2 separate regions of the Homo sapiens genome follow, and region 1 is linked to region 2. Evidence: fine-mapped expression QTL. A gene starts in region 2. The other region holds a variant in brackets. All regions are shown on one strand. Distances are between the middles of the regions. Region 1 overlaps CNOT1 (CCR4-NOT transcription complex subunit 1). Region 2 holds the start of SETD6 (SET domain containing 6, protein lysine methyltransferase).

The links.
Region 1: its variant is fine-mapped to the expression of SETD6 in blood mononuclear cells (TOPMed, PIP above 0.99). The same link has a PIP of 0.9 or more in fibroblasts.

What each region holds. Positions count from the first base shown.
Region 1 is chr16:58,566,986-58,570,005 of GRCh38, reverse strand. The region is part of intron 16 of CNOT1 (CCR4-NOT transcription complex subunit 1); the gene reads left to right. Among named protein-coding and RNA genes, the nearest start is that of SNORA50A, 8.6 kb to the right of the region's middle. The variant A/G (reference allele first, on the strand shown) is at 1,685.
Region 2 is chr16:58,513,810-58,516,536 of GRCh38, reverse strand. SETD6 (SET domain containing 6, protein lysine methyltransferase) reads right to left here and starts at 1,020. Exons shown (of 8, transcript NM_001160305.4): 1 at 973-1,020; 2 at 440-746; 3 at 194-335; 4 at 1-59. The coding sequence starts at 999. It also overlaps a transcript of NDRG4 not described here. RefSeq lists enhancers at 1-135, 1,176-1,345 and a silencer at 396-1,055.

The DNA.
Region 1 (3,020 bases), 53 kb before region 2:
AGTTGCTTCTATCTTGCTGCTGGTAAGATACTCTCCTTGTCTTTTTTCTTTCATCAGCTTGATTATGTTATTCTAGGTATGAATCTCTTTGAGTTTATTCTACTTAGAATTTATTGAATTTCTTGGGTGTCTAGATTAATGTTTTTAATAAAATTTATCGGGTTTTCAGTCATTATTTCTACAAATCTTTCCGTACCTTTTTCTTCTCTCCTTGTACTCCCATTATGTTTGTGGTGGCACACTCAGTAGTGCTCCACATGTCCTTGAGTTCTCAGCCCCCATCCCCCCACCCCCTTTTTTTTCATTTTCTCAGGCTGGATAATTTTAATTGATCTATCTTCAAATGAACTATTTTGTCTGCTTGAATGTGTGGTGGGACATGTGGTTAGTGAAACTTTATTACAGTTACTGTACTTTTTCTGTTTGGTATGTTGTAGAGTGTAGTATCTGATGGGAAAAAACGAATTTCTGTTTTTTGGTTTTTTTTTTTGCTAATTTCTATGGACATGCTTTTTGAGATAGTATTCCTATGTTTTCCTTCAGTTCTTTTGATATATTTTCTTTTAAACGTGTTCTGTAGTGGCTGGGTGTCATGGCTTCAGCCTATAATCCCAGCAGCACTTTGGGAGGCCAAGGTGGGTGGATCACTTGAGATCAGGAGTTTGAGACCAGCTGGCCAACATGGCAAAACTCCGTATCCACTAAAAATGCAAAAATTAGCCAGGCATAGTGAAGGGCGACTATAGTCCCAGCTACTTGGGAGGCTGAGGCAAGAGAATTGCTTGAACCCAGGAGATGGAAGGTACACTGAGCCGAGTTTGTGCCACTGCACTCCAACCTGGGCAGCAGAGTAAGACTCTGTCTCAAAAACCAAAATAAAATGAAAATAAATGTGTTTGGTAACTGATTTGAATTCCTTGTCTAGTAAGTCCAACAGCAGTGTTTCCTCAAGGATCATTTCTACATAGCTTTCCAGCCCTTTGCATGGGACACCCTTTTGTTTCTTTACAAGTCTTGTAATTTTTTTGTTGAAAACAGACAACTTTAAATAATATGGCATTTCCTGGAATCAGATCTTCCTTCTTCAGCAGAGCACATTGTTCGTTATTGCCCTTTTTTTGTTTAGTGACTTTCCTGAACTAATTCTGTTCTTTATAATAGTTGGCTACTGAAGTTCCTGCTTGGTTAGCCTTGTTGTCAGCTAAGATTGACGAGATTTTCTTAAACCTAATCTTGGGAATCAATTCAGCACTAAGCCAGGCAATTCACAGCCACCTTAGTCTTTACTTCCAAAGTTTTTTTTTTTTCTCTCTTTTTTTTAAAATCGAGACGGAGTCTCGCTCTGTCGCCCAGGATGGAGTGCAGTGGCACGATCTCGGCTCACTACAACCTCCACCTCCGGGGTTCAAGCGATTCTCCTGCCTCAGCTGAGTAGCTGGGATTACAGGAGCATGCCACCACGCCTGGCTAATTTTTGTATTTTTAGTAGAGACAGGGTTTCACCATGTTGGCCAGGATGGTCTCGATCTCTTGACCTCGTGATCTGCCTGCCTTGGCCTCCCAAAGTGCTGAGATTACAGGCTTGAGCCACTGCACCCGGCTCAAAGTTTTTCTTTACAGATTTTTTTTTTTTTCTTGAGATGGAGTTTCGCTCTTGTTGCCCAGCCTGGAGTGCAGTGGCACA[A/G]TCTCGGCTCACTGCAACCTCCACCTCCTGGGTTCAAGTGATTCTAATGCCTCAGCCTCCCGAGTAGCTAGGATTACAGGCATGCACCATTACGCCCAGCTAATTTTGTATTTTCTTTAGTAGAGACAGGGTTTCTCATGTTGGGCAGGCTGGTCTCAAACTCCCGACCTCAGGTGATTCGCCCGCCTCCCAAAGTACTGAGATTACAGGCGTGAGCCACCGTGCCCGGCCTTCTTTACAGATTTTTAGTTAGCCTGTATGTAGTTTGCTCCAACTGTAGTAGTCTTCCACCTCAGATAGGCAATAAGTTTAAAACAGTTACTTTCAAATGTTTTTTGTAAACACCTCATGCAGAAAAGGTTTTTGTTTGGGTCAGTTTTCAGGTCAAATAAATCCAACCTTGTCATTGTGTTCTCACACAGACTCCCTATACAGATGAAATAATGACAATTCACTGAGAAGGAGGCTTTGAAGATGTTTTAACCCTGTTTTGATTCACCTCTCAGGCTTCTGGTTTTCATTGTGATTGAGGGCTGTCAGCTTCTAAGCTGGCTGTGGAGCTGGAGATGGGAATAATAGGGCAAATTAATGTGCTAGAAAACTTGATAGTCTCTTGAATAAAAATTTCCCACTTGTTATAAGCCTTTGGTTAACTTCCAAAGTTCTGAAAAAGTTGATTCAGACACTTTTCTAGTTGCTTTTATGAAGGAGAGGAAGTCAGCCCATACCCTGTCGTTTTGCTTTATGAGAAGGTTTTTTTTTTTTTTTTTGAGATGATGTCTTGCCTCCAATTACCTGGGATTACAGGTATATGCTACCATGCATGCCTATTTTTTAAATTTATTTTTATTTTTAATTTTCTGTGGAAATGGGGCTTCACCATGTTGCCCAGGATGGTCTCAAACCCCTGAGCTGAGGCACTCCTCCTGCCTTGGCTTCCGAAAGCGCTGGGATTACAGGTATGAGCCACCACGCCCGGCCAGCATTATTTCTTTTTGTTGTTGTTTAAATAGTCTCACTCTATTACCCAGACTAGAGTGTAGTAATGTGATCATGGCTCACTCGTGGGCTCAAGCAGTCCTCTCTGCATCCTAAAGCGCTGGGGTTATAGGCATAAGCCACCTATGCTCAGCCTTTTTTTTTCTTTCTTTCTTTTTTTCTTATGAGGTCTTACTGTGTTGTTGTACAGTCTGAAGTACAGTGCATGTTCACAGGCACAATCATAGCTCAATGCAACCTTGAACTCCTGGCTTAGTCTTCCTGCCTGAGCCTTGTGAGTAGGTGGTCCTATAGACGCATGCCACCATGCTTGGCCTGATGGTCTTTTTGGCTGTTA
Region 2 (2,727 bases):
TCTCCACGGCCTCAGGTACGCCTGTGCCCTGGAGCAGGCACCGGCGCTCCTCCTCTGGCCTGCAGGGACACCCACACCCAGGTTCCCTTCATTCCTTCACACACTTTACTGGGTAGGACTGGTGCAGGGGCGGGGAAACTTCTTGCAGCAGGCTACGGTGCAGGCGCTCCCCAACCCCTCCCAAGGCTCTCACCAGAACATCGGGTGCTCCAAGCGGCCCAGCTCGGGCCAGAGCGCAAAGTAGGGCCTCCAGCGTGAGGCCGGGGCCTGCAGCTCGTGGAGCAGCGCCAGCAGCAGTGGCACCCAGCCCGACTGGCTCTGCAGCGCAACTCGCTCTGAGGAAGACACAGGTGTGAGCGCCCCGGCGCGGCCTCGCGGGCCGGGCCCGCCCCGCCCCGCCCCGCCCCGCCCCAGGGCCCTAGCCCGCCGCCGTGCCCACCTCGCTCCAGCAGGCCGCCGATGGAGCAGGTGTGCTGCGACAGGAGCGCGGCCCGCGGCACCACGAACAACAGCTCTCCGGCCTGCACGCTCTCCCGGGCCACCATGCCGTAGCCGGCCACCGTGCCCTGCCGGCTGACCGCCACCTGAGCAGGAGGGCTGGTCAGGGCAGCCCGCGCCCCGCCGCGGGTCCTCCGCCCGCCGGCTCGCTCGCTCACCTTGGGACTCAGCTCCAGCCCCACCCGCCGGCACCAGCTCAGGAAGCAGGCCACAGGATCCAGGTCGCCGCCGTCCACGGGCCCCGCCACCTGAGATAAGTGCGCGCAGTGACCAGGTCCGACCCCCAGAGAGGCCGCTGGGAACTGCAGGAGACCGCGGCGCGAGCGCAGAACGGGCTTTGGGTGGAGGAGGGGACGAGCGGAGAGGGGCGCGGGACCCGCGGGAGGGAGCGGAGGGGGCGCAGGCGGACGGTTCTGCGAACGGAGAAGGGGTGAGGCGCGGAGGAAAAGGCTGGACCCCGCGCCCGCCACTCACCCGTGGACGCTTCGCCTGGGTCGCCATGGTCTAAGAGCGCGTTTCCTCGCGGGCCGGCGCACCGCGCGGTCACTTCCGGCGTCTCTGGCCCCGCCCCGGCGCCGGAACCACGTGGTGCCTGTTTTGTCGTCCACGCTGCAGACTGGCCGGAGTTACCGCGGGCTGGAATCGTTCCTCATGAAAACATCTTGAGTCCAGGATCTCCAATTGCACTCACGCGCTGCGAGTGCAGAAGGAGAGTCCCGTGCCGCTTGGCGCCTGGTTCTGAGCCAGGTACAGCCCTGGCCTTCGGTCTGTCCCCGAGGGCTGAGGCTTCTTGCGGTCTGGGTGCAAGAACAAAATACGGTTTCTGGATCGGAAGCCGAGGGTCTGGTGGCCGGCCGGTGGTGAGCGACGCAACTGGGCGGCGAGCGACCTCCTGATCTCGACCCCTTGTTGCCGATGGCCATGGAACCCTTTTACTGGTGGTATTCGTTCAGAGCAGTTTTCGTGTGTGTTTCAGAGTGGCGTGGCCTAGAGGGCTCCTGGATCTAGAATAGATCCTCTCTGCCCTTATTTGCCAGTACATCCTCGTTTTTAATCTGCTGCATAGCACGTGGTGGGTTTTATTAGCTGACATAGTAGGGACTCAATATCTACCTATTGGGTAAATAAATGAATAAAACAAATGGTGGTTAAACCTGGGGAAGTAGCATGCTGTTAAATGTAAGAAAATGAGGCTGTGAATATAGAGGTTACAGGAATGGGTTTTGAAGCCAAGCAACGCCGCAGCTCAACACTCAGTTTTTTTTTTTTTTCCTTTTTTTTTTTTTTTTTTTTGGCGCGTTGGGGAGACGGGAGTCTCGCCCAGGCTGGAGTGCAGTGGTGCGATCTCGGCTCACTGCAACCTCCACCTCCCGGGTTCAAGCAATTCCCCTGCCTCAGCCTCCCAAGTAGCTGGGACTACAGGCGTACGCTGCCATGCCCAGCTAATTTTTTGTGTTTATTTTTAGTAGAGTCGGGGTTTCACCGCGTTGCCCAGGCTGGTCTCGAACTCCTGAGCTCAGGCAATCCCCCCGCCTCGGCCTCCCAGAGTGCTAGGATTACAGGCGTGAGCCACCGCGCGCGGCCTGGTCTGTTACTCAGGCAAATCCTTTTTCCTGAACCTTAGTCTCCTCACCTGCGAAACTAAGATAATACCTACTCTGTAGAATTAATGTAAGGATTGGTATGTTGACTAAAGAAAAAATATTAAGCTTTTAAATAATTAAAATTAGTTTTATTTAGAAGCCTTATTGAGGACTATAGACTGAGGCCTGTAGCCCAGGAGTAATCTTGTGAGGCTCCTCTAACACGGTATTTTAGTTTAGGTTATACATAGGTGAAGATTTAGTATGTGTAAAATCATATCAAAGTTTAGGGATAAGTATATCTGGTTATAGATTGCAGAGTATAATCATTAACCCTGTCAGACATGATCGTATGTTTAGGAGAAGGCAAAGAGTAGGTCATTTATCTTTGAAGGAATGTAGTGACTCAGGCAAGAGATTTGGAGGGCAGGGGTGTTTTGTTTTGTCTTTAAGGCATTTTTTTCTGGAGAGCTGTATTTTGTTTTTTTGTTTTATTTTGAGGCAGAGTCTTGCTCTGTCATCCAGGCTGGAGTGCAGTGGCACGATCTCCACTCACTACCACCTCTGCCTCCTAGGTTCAAGCGATTCTCCTGCCTCAGCCTCCCGAGTAGCTGGTATTACAGGCACGCGCCACCATGCTCAGCTA